Homo sapiens: one gene and its partner. The protein of the gene in region 1 interacts with the protein of each later gene in a biochemical or structural test. Each region holds a gene or a part of one and is shown in the gene's direction. Other genes may lie near its edges.

The links. The genes of interacting proteins can lie anywhere in the genome.
Region 2: the proteins of SPSB1 (region 1) and DDX4 interact in a test that uses a peptide from one of them, tested with the Homo sapiens proteins (one study listed by BioGRID).

The regions. Positions count from the first base shown.
Region 1 is NC_000001.11:9,295,151-9,303,602, forward strand, and holds part of SPSB1 (SPRY domain-containing SOCS box protein 1), read left to right. Parts: intron 1-8,452. UniProt on the Homo sapiens protein: Substrate recognition component of a SCF-like ECS (Elongin BC-CUL2/5-SOCS-box protein) E3 ubiquitin-protein ligase complex which mediates the ubiquitination and subsequent proteasomal degradation of target proteins.
Region 2 is NC_000005.10:55,810,335-55,817,657, forward strand, and holds the end of DDX4 (probable ATP-dependent RNA helicase DDX4), read left to right. Parts: intron 1-3,338; coding exon 3,339-3,438; intron 3,439-4,566; coding exon 4,567-4,837; intron 4,838-4,978; coding exon 4,979-5,089; intron 5,090-6,128; coding exon 6,129-6,206; 3' UTR 6,207-6,823; downstream 6,824-7,323. UniProt on the Homo sapiens protein: ATP-dependent RNA helicase required during spermatogenesis. Required to repress transposable elements and preventing their mobilization, which is essential for the germline integrity.

The DNA.
Region 1 (8,452 bases):
CTGCTTTTCTTCTGCAGGGAGCACTTTACCCAGTAGATGGAGTGTGTGTGTGTGTGTGAGAGTGTGAGTGTGTGTGTGTGTGTGTGTGTGTGCGCGCGTGCGGTTGGGGAGGTGTGGAGTGGACTAAGGCAATCACTTTACAAGTCTTCCTTTTCCAGTCTGGCTACCACCCTAGCAGCAGAGAAAACAAAAGCAGTAGCATGTTGGCCCCAGTGGCTCAGACAGCCCCGAGCAGGGAGCAAGGCGGGTGCCATGCCGGCTTAAGAGAGACCTGGCCCTGGGAAGAATCAGTGGGTTTCAGGGCTCTTAGGAAGGGGTGGGCCTGCCTGGGGCCCTGGTGATGTCACTTTGGAGCTGGGTGAGGCCGTTTCTTGGGCTGCTGTAGTAAGGCTGGATCCACCCTTCAGTGGGTCCCTCTGGGCTGCTGCAGAATCTCACCCCCTTGGAATCATCACAGATGTTGAATTTCTTCACCAGAGCTGGGGAATGGGGTGGGGGCCTAGCCCGTGGAAGCCAGCGCTGCCCTCCCACCCCCATGGTGTGTGCCGTGCTCCCTTCCTGCACCTGCCCCTCCTCCTGGGTGGATGGAAACTTGCCTGCAGACGCATTTTCAAATTCAGCGAAACCTCTGATTCTTACGGTGTTCATGAGTTCGTCTGGGCATTTTGTATCAATTTTTCTCGAGAAATAGGTTGTAGCTGGTGTGCATGACTCAGTGTATCTTTTGGTTCTGAAAAATTTTATCAGACGACAGCACAAGGTCAGGTACAGGTGTGCCTCAGTCTGCCCAGGGGTGTGTTATCCTCTCCCCAGCCCTCAACACTAGATCAGTGAAATCCAGACTCTAAGGGACTTCGATTTTGGACTTTCAGTGAGTGCTCTCCCCTCCCCCAGTTATCTGATAACATCTCCCCCAGTCTAAAGTTCCACTGGCAGCCAGGTGCCCGGCTCTGTGCTACAGAGTGCTTTATGGACGTGACTTTGTTTGAATCCTAAGCATAATAATAGCGGGAAATGGTTTCATGGTTTCACGGTGCGTGCGAGTACTGGCTCTGATCTGAGTCCTTGACGCATTGACTCATGGGCTTCCTGAGGACCCTGAGAAGTGGGTTTTGCCTCCATGTCCATTCTGCTGAGGATTGCAGGTAACTTGGCTAAGGTCTCGCGGCAAGGGAATGGTGGAGCCAAAACTCGAATCCAGACTTGGCACCCAAGCCCTTCACCAGTAAGTTTGTCACCTCCACCACCTGAGCCTTTTCTTCAAGAAGCATGGGCTCATTTTTTTAGTGAAATTTTTTGTTATTATGGAAAATGTCAAACACACCAAAGTTAGAGGCAGAGTATAATGAGCGATCAGGTTTCCTCACCTCGCATGCACACACATACACATACTCACATATGCACATGCATACTTATGCTCACAGAAGATGTGCACATGTGTACACACACATACATATGCACACACATATATGCACACATACACACACACGCTGGATTATTTTGAAGCAAATACAAGATGTCAGGTCATCTGTAGCTTCTTCCTAAGAAGCATTTAAAGGAAGCATCACATCTCAAAGAGGTTGACTGTTACTCTATGCGGGGCAAGAGTCGGGAGATGTACGTCCTTTCTGACTTGGGCTTGAGGCTCCTTCCTTGCTTGGACAAAGGGAGGATGGCAAAACCCAACAGCACATTGGGGGATCTGTCCTGCTGCCAACCCCCTGAAACCTTTGGGAAGCTGCCTGTTTGCTTTGTGTTTTAAAAGTTCTGTTCATTGCCCAACGTTAAAAATAAATGAGTCCAGTGGTCATGAGACAGACCACATCAACAACAGGCTTAGGCTCTCGGGGCCTTTCTTGGAGATGGGGAAGAGAATCCGCCAAGGCACAGCCCAGCCTTGCCTGCCATTGAGGTCCAGACCTTGTGCAATGCAGGCATGGGATTTGTGGCAGGGCTGGGTGTCAGGAGATGTGACTGTGAGAATGGTTTGTCAACAAGCTCTGAATCTGACCTGAAGCTTAGCCTGACCCTCTTGAGTTTACTGCGTAGGCGATGGGTGGAGGAATCCAAGAACCTCTGCCACCCTTGGGCGTCTCTTGGAAAACTAGGGAGGCATTGGGTGATTTGAGCACAAGATGAAGAAAATATCAGGATGCAAACTCCACACTTGAGAAATGACTGCTGAGTAGGAATATAGGATTCCAGGGTTGGAAAAACCTACCTGTGACAAGGGCTTGACGGGTGCCCCAGTTGTGAACACACCTTGCCAGACAGTCAGAGTGTGGCCAATCTGGTCACACCCTTTCCAAGGTCAGAGTGAGGAGCTGCACTCCACACCAAGAGAACCACTTGAGTTTTCTAATTTATACAAGCAGACACCAAGGGAGCATGTGTGGGAGTGGATATTAGGATGTGGAACGAACATGAAGTTGGATCTGGCCGAATTTATGGATATGGGCCCACTAAGCGGAGATTCTGCACTTGATGTTGTAGCTCAGGGGGTTAAGAAGAGATCTGTTTGGTTGGCTGACTGGAACATGGATCAAAGGATGACCCACTGTGAGTAAGTTGGAGTTTCTGGGTCTCCTTTGGTTTAATGTAGAGTTAGGGATTCATAGGCTTAGGTTTCATGTAGAGTTAGGGATTCAAAGGCTTAGGGACATTGGAATGCTGGAGTGGATTTGTCTCTTAAAAGCTACTCACCCACACTGGGAAGGTTCAGAAGACAGATCTTTCACGCATACGTTGAGAAATAGATTTGTGAGGGGGCCCCAGCATCCCTGAAGAGCTCCGTGATCCAGCCCTTACAGTGGGAGCCGCAGTCACTCAAATGGAAAACTTAAATGCAACGGGAGTAATTGCATTTGGAGTGCAGCGGCCAAGTGGCAGTACTCAGCCATCCAAGGCAAGGTGAGTGTGGTTACCTAATGGACGGCAGAGGCAAAGCTGCCGTCAGAATAGTCTGACTTGTGTGGATCTATGGCATTGGATAGTTAATCATGGTGTTCCTAGAAGTGAAATAGACAGGAAACCCGTGAAATTCTTACTTGATCTTATAAGTTACTTGATTCTTTTAAGTTTTCTGTATAAGCAGAAACTTACAGGTCAAATGAAAAAAAGTCTAACTTGAATAATTAAAACAGAAAAATAATTAAAACAGAAAATCACAGCCCTCAATCAACTTCCCAGACTTAACCCAGTTTACACAACTAAGCCCCCATGAATGAATGAATGAGTGAATGAATGAATGAGTGAACGAATGAATGAATAAGTGAACGAATGAATGAATAAGTGAATGAATAAGTGAATGAATGAATGAATGAATTGGAAGCTGGATCCCTTTGAAGAAGGACCTCAGTACACTAGAGAAAGTTTATGCTATTAATTTTTCTCCTAGCCTTCCCCAAAGGGACCTGTGACCTTTTACCAGAGTGAATATGTATTGAGGAAAGGGAAATAATTAGATTGTTCGGGGATAACTGGTTACTGAACTGATACTGATTCCAGGAAACCAAAAATATCACTCACTGTGGCCCACTAGTCAGAGAAGGGGCTTATGGAGGTCAGGTGATCAATGGAGTTTTAGCTTAGGTTTGACTCCTGGTGGCTCCCGTGGATCCCTGAACCCATCCTGGGGTTATTTCCTGGTTCCAGATTCAAAGTTGACATACTTAGCACCTGGCAGAATCCACACACTGGTTCCCTGCCTTGTGCGGTGAGGGCTGTTATGGTGGGAAAGGCCAAGTGGAAACCATTAGCGTTGCCTCTGCCTGGGAAAATAGTACATCAAAAGCAACATTGCATCCCTGGGGTGGGGCTGCCGAGATTAGCACCACCATCAAGGACTTGGAGGAGGCGGGGGTGGTGACCCCCACCACATCCCCATTCAACTCTCCGATTTGGCCTGTGCAGAAGACAGATGGACTTTAGAAACTGATAGTGGATTATTGTAAACTTAACCAAGTGGTGACTGCAAAATTCACACATCTCTGGTCCCTGCTACTGCATGCAGCTGTTGATCTGACGAATGCCCTTCTCTTTATACCTGTCCATAAGGCCCAGCAGAAGCAGTTTGCATCCAGCTGGTAAGGCCGGCAATGCCCCTTGGCGGTCTGGGCTGATGGGTATATCAGCTCTCCAGCCCTATGTCACAGTTTAGTTCACAGTCATCTTGATCACCTTTCCCTTCCACAGATATCATACTGGGGCTGGGCACGGTGGCTCACTCCTGTAATCCTAGCACTTCAGGAGGCCGAGGCAGGAGGATCGCTTGAACTTAGGAGTTTGAGACCAGCCTGGGCAACACAGTGAGACGTCATCTCTCTCTCTCTCTCTCTCTTTTTTTGAGATGGATTTTTTGCTCTTGTTGCCTAGGCTGGAGTGCAATGGTGCAATCTCGGCTCACTGCAACCTCCGCCTCCCGGGTTCAAGCAATTCTCCTGCTTCAGCCTCCTGAGTAGCTGGGATTACAGGCATGCGCCACCACACCCAGCTAATTTTTTGTATTTAGTAGAGACAGGGTTTCACTATGTTGGTCAGGCTGGTCTTGAACTCCTGACACCAAGTGATTCACCCGCCTTGGCCTCCCAAAGTTCTGGGATTACAGGCATGAGCCACTGCGCCCGGGCCGACATCATCTCTATAAATTTTTTTTTTTTTTAAATTAGCCAGGCATGATGGTGTGTGCCTGTGGTCCCAGCTACTTGGGTGGCTGAGGTGGGAGGATCGCTTGAGCCTAGGAGGTCAAGACTTGCAGTGAGCAGTGATTGTGTTACTTTACTCCAACCTGGGCAACAGAGTAAGACCCTGTCTCAAAAAAAAAAAAAAAAAAAGGGTCTCATGCTGGTCCATTACATTGATGTCATCATGCTTCATTGGACCTAGTGAGCAAGAAGTCGCAACCACTGTAGCCTTATTGGTAGGACATTTACATGTCAAGCGATGGGAAATAAATTCTACTGAAATTCGGGGACCTTCTCCCTTAGTGAAATTTCTCGGGGTCCAGTAGTGTCAGGCCTGTGAAGGTATCCCCTCTAAGGTGAAGAATAAGTTGTTACAGCTTTCCTCCTGCAACCAAGAAAGAGGCACAATGCCTCGTGGGCCTGTTTGGACTTTGGAGGCAACACATTCCTCATTTGGGTGTGTTACTCCAGCCCATTTGCTGAGTCACCCTAACGCTTCTAGTTTTGAGTGGGGCCCGTAGCAGAAGACTGCAACAGGTCCAGGTTGCTGTGCAACCTGCTTTGCCACTTGGGCCACCAGCAGATCCAGTGGTGGTTGAGGTCAGCGGCAGACAGGGAGGCTGCTTAAAGCCTTTGGCAGGCCCCTGTAGATGAATCGCAGTACAGGCCTTGGGATTTTGGAGCAAGGCCCTGCCATCATCCACAAATAACTTCATTCCTTTTGAGAGACAGCTCTTGGCCTAATACTGGACCCTAGTAGAGACTTAATGTTTGACCATCAGCCACGAAGTTGCCATGTGACCTGAGCTGCCCATCATGAAGTGGGTGTTATCTATGATCTGACCGACCAAACCAGACATTGGGCATGTGTGGCAGAACGCTGCCATCGAGAGGAAGTGGTATATATGGGATCAGGTCTGAGCAGGTCCTGAAGGCACAAGTAAGTGACATGAGGAAGTGGTCCAAAGGCCCATGGTTCTTACTTTGCCCACTGCCTTCTCTCTCCAGCCTGTATCTATGGTCTCCTGGGGAGTTCCCTCTGATCGATTGACAGTGGAAGAGAAGACTTAGTCAGCCTGGTTTGCAGATGGCTACAGATGGCTCTGCACTATATGAAGGCACAACCCGAAAGTGGACAGCTGCAGCACTATAGCCCCTTGCTGGGACACCTCTGAAGGATGGGGGTGAAGGGAAATCCTCCCTGGCAGAGCTTCGGGCAGTGCACCTGGTTGTGCACCTTGCTTCGAAGGAGAGATGGCCAGATGAGTGATTATATACTGATCCATGGGCTGTGCCTGATGATTTGGCTGGATGGTCAGGGATTTGGGGACTTGGAAAGAGTATGATTGGAAGATTGGTGACAAAGAAAGCTGGGGGCCTGGCATAGTGGCTCACACCTGTAATCCCAGCACTTTGGGAGGCCAAGGTGGGAGGATTGCTTGAGCCCAAGGAGTTCGAGACCAGCCTGAGCAACATAGTGAGACTCCCCGCCCCCGCCATCTCTACAAAAATAAAAAATTAGCTGGGCGTGGTAGCTCATGCCTGCAGTCCCAGCTACTTGGGAGGCTGAGGTGGGAGGATCACTTGAGCCTAGGAGGTTGAGGCTGCAGTGAGCTGTGATTGCTCCAGCCTGGGCAACAGAATGAGACCCTGTATCAAAAAACCCAACCAAACAAAAAAGCAATTGGGGGAAGATGTATGTGGATAGACCTGAGTGCGCACAGGACACGGATAGACCTCCCGAGTGCGCACAGGACATGAGGTATGTGGGTAGGATGACCTAGGTGGATTCTCGTCAGCCTCTTTCCCTGGCCACCCCTGTCATCGCCTGGTGGGCTCAGGAACAAAGTGGTCATGGTGGCAGAGATGGAGGTGATGCATGGGCTCAGCAGCATGGACTGCCACTCACCAAAGCCGACCTGGCTATGGCTACCACTGGCTGCTAGTCTGCCAGAAGCGGAGACTAACACTGAGCTCCAGTATGGCCCCATTCCCCGGGATGATCACTGCACCTGGTGGAAGGCACATTGGACCACTTCTGTTTTGGAAGGGGCAGCGTTTTGTCCTTACTGGAGCAGGCACTTATTCTGGATACAGATTCGTCTTCCCTGCACACAGTGCTTCTGCCAAAGTCACCATCCATTGATTGACAGAACACCTTTCCCACTGTCACGCTGTCCGTGTAGCACTGCTTCCAGGGAGCTCACTTCACAACCAAGGAAGTGTGGCACTGGGATCATGTGCAGGGAATTGGCCGGTGAGCACGAGCCCACTGGTTTCGCCTATCATGCTAAGTGGAACTACGGTCTTGTTATTGCCTTTATTTGGAAATTAAGTATGGTTTAAGAAGATGCCAGTGGGTGCCTATGGGTGCCAGTTGGTAAGGGGTGGACCTGTGATGATTGATTTTGGATGTCAACTTGACTAGATTAAGGAATACCCAGGTAGATGGTAAAGCATTGATTATTCTCTATGCTTCAGTACACACTGAGCCTGTCCCTTTTCTGCTGACAGGGAAGCCCAGTGGTTTGACATTGTGTAGAATGATCGGGCTGCCCCAGATGTGTCTGTGAGGGTGTTTTTGGAGGACACTGGCAATTGAGTCACTCAACTGGGTGGGGAGGATCTGCCCTCCATGTGGGCAGGCACCATCCAGTCAGCCGGGGGCCTGGAAGAAGGGTGAATCCTGGCTCTCTGTCCCGGAGCTGGGATGCTCTTCTCCTGCGCTTGGATGTCAGAACTCCAGGTTCTCTGGCCTTTGGACTCTGGGACTCGTACGAGTGGTCTCCGGAGTCTTTGACCTGGGACTGGGAATGACCACGTTCCCCACCATCCTGAAGCAGCTGACTTGAAAGAAGGGCAGTAGAGTCTTTTGAAGTTGCAATTACAATGCCAGCTAGGTGACAATACTTTGTAGGGCTGGGTCAGGGGTCTTCAAAAGGCTCTATGTACTCTGTATCAGCATCCAATATATGGTGCTGGTTTCTCCCGTAGCCAGGATTCACGGGTCCAGGAATCAAGGGGAGGAAATGGGAGTGGCACTGCGCATCATATCCCCTAGGGACCCGCTAGCGAAATTGTTGCTTCCTGTTCCTGTGACTTTATGCTCTGCTGGCCTGGAGGTCTTGGTTCCAGAGAGAGGAATGCTCCTACCAGGAGACACAACAGTGATTCCATTGAACGGGGGGTAAGGCTGCCACCTGGCTTCTTTGGGCTCCCTGTGCCTCTGGGTCAGCAGGCTGAGAGGGGAGTGATGGTGTTGGCTGTGGAGATTGATCTGGACTACCAAGGGGAAATTGATCTGGACTGCTCCACAATGAGGCAAGGAAGAGTGTGTCTGGAGTACAGGATACTCCTTAGGGCATCTGTTAGTATTACCATGCCCTGTGATTAAGTCAATGGGAAATTACAAGGATACAATCCAGGCAGGACTGTGAATGACTCAGACCCTTCAGGAATGAATGTTTGGGTCACTCTGCCACTTAAAGAACCACAGCCAGCTGAGGTGCTTGTTGCAGACGAAAGGAACACAGAACAGGACAGAGGGAGGTAGTTATAATAAATACCAGCTCCAACCACGTGACCAGTTACAGAAACAAGGGCCAGAATTGCTGGGAGTATTTCCTCCCTATTTTGTTCAGAATACGGTTGTATGCATTTACATGTATATTAGGCAAATATCTGTTTTCTTTCCTCTCTTACTCCTTATTCTTAGAACATGTGTTGAGTCTATAGCAGTATTTAAGTATTAATTTTACATCATAGTATTT
Region 2 (7,323 bases), on another chromosome or scaffold:
CCTCAGGTGATCCGCCCGCCTTGGCCTCCCAAAGTGCTGGAATTACAGGTATGAGCCACCATGCCTAGCCATGTTTCGGATTTTTTTTAATTAACTTTTGGAATATTTGCAGTACGTTTATCACTTGATCATCCCTAATCCAAAACTCTGAAATGCTCCAGTGAGCATTTCCTTTGAGCATCATGTCAGTACTCAAAGAGTTTGGGATTTTGGATTTTCAAATTAGGAATGCTCAACGTGTATTAACATTTTATCTATTCTCTTTAATCTTGGAAAAGTGTAGTCTTTTCTGGTTTGACAACTCTTACCATACAACTCTTAAATAGTAATACATCTAAAAAAAATAATTTCTAGAATCCCTTCCTTTATAATGAAATAATAAACCTTTGTGCTTTTCCTGGGGCTCTCTCTGAGAAATCTCAAAAGTTTTCTGGGTGAATTTCTTCTTCTAAATTTTTAATTTGATCTTAAAAAGACAAAAGGAGTTGTCAGAGGAGAGTTGAATATTTGATTAGTGTAGGATTCGTGGGTATCAGAAAAACTATTTGGTTATCAATTTAATTGAAGTGACAAAACATTTAGAAGTAAACATAGAAAGTGACATGGTTGTAAATAACCACAGCTCTTTCATAAATAGGGAACCTTTTCTCTTTAGTCTTTTTTTCTTCTTTTTTTCCCTTCTTTAGTCTTTTTTTTTTTTTAAACAGACCTAATAAAGTCAACAGAATCTCTGCTGTCTAGGCTGATTACAAGGAAGGTAAAGAATAACTTTTTATCCAGTGTAATGGCTCTGAGGAAAAAAAACTCTCATAAGCGAAAGCATTAAACAGTAAATTAAGAAAGTAATTCCATACAAACTGAGTGACCTTTGCTAGAATATTAACACCTTTTATAGCTTATTTTAACCCAAGTGTTTTAAATCAAAGCAGATAAAATTCAGTTTCCAAGTTTTATCTTTCATTGTGCTTTTTCAGTTTTCTGGAACAAACTGACATTTTAGGACAAAATGTGTCTCCCCCAGGTTCTCTAAGATCCCCTAATTGGGTCTGCAAGGTAAAAATAATTTTCATGATTATACTAAGAATTATTTATTTTAATATGCAAATATTGTTCAAATAAAGATTATCTTGGTGTTAATTTTTAATATGGTAAATATCAAAACACACAAGAAAAACTCCAGGATTGTCAGTGTTTTATGAGTTTAAAGGTAACACTGACCAAAATGTTTGAAAGCCACTAAACTACTTTTTTTCCTTGAAGCAAAAGCAATTACAGTTTTTATTTCTGTCACTGTTATTCCTAGTGTAGTTGCAACCACTTATGTTAATTATATCTTTTAATCATAGTAACTTCTATTTCATAAAGGAAATTGGGAGCAGGGAGATGGGAAACTGGGAGATGTCATACACAAGCATTGTCTACTGTTTTCAGTTACCTGAAGATTTTGGAAATTATCTTCAAGATGATGTTTTTCAAAACATAAATACTGTTGAATAAATGACTAAATTTAGTTGAACACAGATTTCCGTTTTCATACTCTTAAACATCATGAAGGAATAATACTAGCTTATTTGGCTAGTAAACCTCTATACATTAGGAAAAACAAACCCAAGTAGAGTAAGTGTATTAAGCTTTACACTGATAATAGGGAGAAGATGTTTTGGTTTTTTTTAAACTAAAGGTATTAGTCTCATTTACCAAAGATTTCACTTAATTATGTAAACTTGGATTCTTAAAATGATTCTGATTCTTGTAATACGTTTTTTCAAAAGTTTAATATAGTTTAAAGTATATTTTTCAAAAGTGCAAGTTCAATTTCTTTACTTTCTGAGATTTTAGGAATATTTACCTTGATAACATTTCTCTTTTATTCATCTTTATAAACAAATTTGAATAGAATTCCTTTAAGAGACTTTGTAATTTAATGTGTTAATACTTCCGTAGGGGCCGGGCGCGGTGGTTCACGCCTGTAATCCCAGCACTTTGGGAGGCCGAGGCGGGCGGATCACGAGGTTAGGAGATTGAGACCATCCTGGCTAACACGGTGAAACCCCGTCTCTACTAAAAATACAAAAAAAAATTAGCTGGGTGTGGTGGCAGGTGCCTGTAGTCCCAGCTACTCAGGAGGCTGAGGCAGGAGAATGGCGTGAACCCGGGAGGCGGAGGTTGCAGTGAGCCGAGATTGTGCCACTGCACTCCAGCAAGCCGAGATTGCGCCACTGCACTCCAGCCTGGGCAACAGAGCGAGACTGCGTCTCAAAAAAAAAAAAATGCATTTCTCAGAGGCTTAGACTTGTCTTTCACTCTTCCTTAAGCTCTTTTCCTAGATACCTGCACAGTTCACTATCTTTATATCTTTACTAAGATACCATCTAATTGGGGTATCTAAAGTAGGCCTGTCTAATAAGCCTGTCTTAAAGTATCTAAAGTAATCATCTCTGGACCCTTTATCTTGCTGATTTTTTCCTTTTTAGTACTAAATGCGTAATATTTATTTGCCTCCCCATAGTGAAAGCAGGGGCTTTTATTTCCGCATTTCCAACAGAAACATGACAGGCATCTAGTAGGCACTAAATGTTTGCTGAATAAATGAATGAAGTGAGATTACAGAGAAATGGGGAGAGAGATTATGAACAGTAATACATTTTTATATGCTTTAAAGCTATAAATTATCTTTCTTCTCCAACATTTTATAGGGAAATTCCCTGTGTGGGAAAATCTCCGGCCCATGCTTGAATTTCTACCGGTTAAATATTTTAAGGAGTAAATATTCCTTAACAAGTTAAGACCCTGGGATAAGGTTGTCATTTAATTTTTTAATATGTAAGATATTTTGGGAATGAAGGGATTTGAATTAGAGATAATGTTTGGAACACTAATTATATAGAGTTAAGCAGCCCCAGGTCAGATGCCACTATTGTAAACACCTCAGGCAATCATGGGAGAATGAAAGATTGGATTATCTTGAGAGGTAGACAGCAAAAAACATTTATAGAGCGAGGGAAATGGAGGGGAGGAAAGGACTGAGACAATTTTATATTACTAAGAGTTGGCAGGCAGATATGATTTACCTTTCCCTAAGGTTCTACTTCTTGTGTTGGCCTGGGAGGAGGAAAGAGAAGCTAATTTTTTAAATCCCTCAACTAGGAAAACAGTCCTGTGTCTTTGACATCCATTCTGGAATTAGAGTCCCTCTTATGTACCAGGCTTGGCTGTGGTGCTGGTAGTAAATACAGTGGTGGACAAAGTTTCATATTCAAGCACTGCCTCCTATCCCTGCTTTATTTTTCATTTCCTGATTTTGAAGTTTGAATATTAATAATTTCATTGTCTTGTAGGGGATGAAAGAACTATGGTCTTTGTTGAAACTAAGAAAAAAGCAGATTTTATTGCAACTTTTCTTTGTCAAGAAAAAATATCAACTACAAGTATTCATGGGTGAGTAGATGAATATAATTACCTATTAGGGGAATGACTTCTATTTGGTATTTAAGAAACATCAGTTTATATAACTAATATGATATAATCCTAGGATTGGGATTCAGAATTCTCTCAGATCTAAACTGTTATTCTCCTTTATATGAGGAAAAGGATAATACCCAGGAGTACTAAACTATTATTTTTCATCCTCATTCTTAGTTTTTAGAACTAAGTGGTTGTGGTGGGTAAGATAAAGGTCTGCCTTACTCTCAAAATAAGGAGTGGAAATTTCTCAAGAGATCTCACTTAAGGATCTCTGGCCCCTTATCAAATTTTCCTTTGCTAAATCTAATCTTTCTTAGAGCTTTTTAAAATTGGAGTGCTTTAAAATGTCATATTAATACCGTTTTATGGGCACTTCATTAGTAGATCCTAAAATATCACGTAGTATATAGTGTTGTGAAATTATACTTTAAAAATATGTTTTTAAGCAAGCATTCTAATCAAGTAGTTGTATATTTTATGTCAAGACTATAAAGCATAGAGATTATAATAGGATTTGATTTTTGTCAGACTTGAGATTGTAGTCTGTCTCTACATATTAGCTGTTACTTTACCTCATTTGCAAATGGGGATAATTTTTGCAACTCAAAGTATTATATTGAGGATTAAATAAAATGGTAGCTTGGAAGGAATTAGTATAGTACCTGGTATGTAAGAAGTGAACATTAATGTTAAATGCTGCTATTCTTTTTTTTTTTTGAGAAAGTCTTGCCCAGTCATCCAGGCTGGAGTGCAATGGCACGATCTCAGCTCACCTCTGCTTCCCCGGTTCAAGTGATTCTCCTACTTCAGCCTCCCTAGTAGCTGGAATTACAGGTGCATGCCACCATGCCCAGCTAATTTTTTGTATCTTTAATAGAGATGGTGTTTCATCATGTTGGCCAGACTGGTCTCGATCTCCTCACCTTGTGATCCACCTGCTTCAGCCTCCCAAAGTGCTGGGGTTACAGGTGTGAGCCACTGCGCCCAGCCAAATGCTGCTATTCATACTATTATTAAAAAGAAATTTGTATGTTGAACTTTAATGATTCACTTTAATGATTTTAAGAGTGGTTCTAATAACATGCTTTCTTTTCTTTCAAGTGATCGGGAACAGAGAGAGCGGGAGCAAGCTCTTGGAGATTTTCGCTTTGGAAAGTGCCCAGTTCTTGTTGCTACTTCAGTAGCTGCCAGAGGGCTGGATATTGAAAATGTGCAACATGTTATCAATTTTGATCTTCCTTCTACCATTGATGAATATGTTCATCGAATTGGGCGTACTGGTCGTTGTGGGAATACTGGCAGAGCAATTTCCTTTTTTGATCTTGAATCGGATAACCATTTAGCACAGCCTCTAGTAAAAGTATTGACAGATGTAAGTTAAACTTTTATGATGGAATGGATAGTTTTCTTACTTTGTTGTTGAAAGTAGACATTTTATGCATGTGTATATAACAAGTAAACTTTTCCAATATTTAATACTTTATGTTGCATATGAAGTCAATTTTTTTTAAAGGCTCAACAGGATGTTCCTGCATGGTTGGAAGAAATTGCCTTTAGTACATACATTCCTGGCTTCAGTGGTAGTACAAGAGGAAACGTGTTTGCATCAGTTGATACCAGAAAGGTTAGTAGAAAGGAAAACTTGAGAACTTGTCTTCTAGTTACTCTTTGTAAATGTTGTGCTTAATATTGTGAAGTAACTATAATATTTAATAATCAAGCCATTGTTTTCGTGCCTGGAAGGTAGCTACTTTATTATTTCATTAACATTTTATGTATATACATATTTTTGGTTTTAAAGGTCAGGAATTAACTTTGAGATTTATGCCTAAACAGTCTCCTTTCCCAGATTTTAAATTTTAATTTGGAATCTTTTAAACTTCTGATGGAATTATTTAATTTTTGAATTCTGACAACATTAATTAATATAAAATACAGGACCTGTTGGGGTTACAAGTCTTTTCTTTTTCTTTTCTTTTTTTTTTTTTTTGAGATAGTGTCTGGCTCTGTTGTCCAGGCTGGAGTGCAGTGGCATGATCTTGGCTCACTGCAACCTCCGCCTCCCAGGTTCAAACAATTCTCATGCCTCAGCCTCCAGTGTATCTGGGATTACAGGCATGTGCCACCATCTTAGCTGGTTTTTTTTTTTTTTTTTTTTGTATTTTTAATAGAGACAGGGTTTCACCATGTTGGCCAGGCTGGTCTCAAACTCCTGGCCTCAAGTGATCCACCTGCTTCAACCTCCCAAAGTGCTGAGATTACAGGCGTGAGCCACTGCGCCCAGCCACGAGGCTACAAGTCTTTTCTGGTATGTCAGGTTTTTATAGGCTGAACACCGCCTTTATTCAGAAACAATGAGCATGTTAATTAAATATTTATGCTGATTCATTGAGTGTAGTGCATTAAGTTTTCCCCACTTGTCAAAACTATTGACTTAAAAAATATTTTTCTTGAAACATTTTGTGCAATTTAGATTTCCTCATTTGACAGGAGCCTTTTTTCAGGTGAATCAGATTTAGTGAGAATAAAGTTCTTTGATTATTTGGGGAAGACATGGTAGATACTTTGAGTCCTTGCTCTCAGTCTGAGTGATGTAACTTTAAAGCTGTCATAAAATTAAATGTTTGTTTGTTTCTTTTTTTTTTTTTTTAAATAATTACCAGGGCAAGAGCACTTTGAACACAGCTGGGTTTTCTTCTTCACAAGCTCCCAATCCAGTAGATGATGAGTCATGGGATTAAAGCCAAAACATCCTTCAAGTCTGTGGTTTTGATGCAGAGAAGAAAATAGTTTTGATTTTTGAGTTTTTAACAGAAGTATAAAACTTAACATTCTCATAGCTCCTGTCCTTGTATTCTCACTCCTACACTTAAAAAAAAAATCCTTACTGACTAGTTATGTGAGATGCTAAAACTTACAACATTGCAGTTACTGATACAAATGGTGTTAACTGGGAATATTAAAGCATTCTAAATGTCTTTCTTATTTCTGGTATATTCTTTAGGGGGCTTAGACATGTTTAATGTTTAAATGCCAAGTCTTACTATAGTGTTTATTGATCTTATAAAACAAGCAAATAGGATATGATACACTTTTGGTTAAAAATTACTGGGTCTCATTTTTACTTGAGTCTTTAAAACAGTAGTGTGTCACTATAATGTGATAATCTTTAAGAGAAAGTAGAATACTTAAGCCTTTCAAAGTGATTTTGATTTTTAGATCATCAGATGTATGATGAAAATGGTTAAATGTTTGTGATGGGAGCTCTGTACTCAATGGCATAACAATGTTTATTTTTATAATATACAATCTTTCCTTGAAATAAAGGATGAAACACTTTTCCCTTAAGTTTTCCATCAGCACTTTAAATTTTTCTTTGTTGCATATCCTAGCCCAAACTCCTATATTTTTGAAACTGTTTTTTTGTGTCTTGCGTAACCAGTGCAGTGAACAAAGTCTTACATAAATTAAATATTAATGTATAAACATTACTGCACAGATGTGGCAATGAAAATCAATCTTAGAACTCAAACCCGTTTATCAACAAAAAACAATGCTGCTTACTCTTTCCATAAGTTTTTGATTCATATTTTAAGATTGATGAAAGAACCCTGTCTTTCTTCATTTTCCATTATATATCTTGAACTTACTATGCCTAGAATAATGAAGTTCTTTTTTTTTTTGAGACGGAGTCTTGCTCTTGTTGCTAAGGCTGGAGTGTAATGGCGTGATCTTGGCTCACTGCAACCTCTGCCTCCCGGGTTCAAGCAGTTCTCCTGCCTCAGCCTCTCCCGAGTAGCTGGGATTACAGACACGCGCCACAATGCCCAGCTAATTTTTAGTAGAGACGGGTTTCAC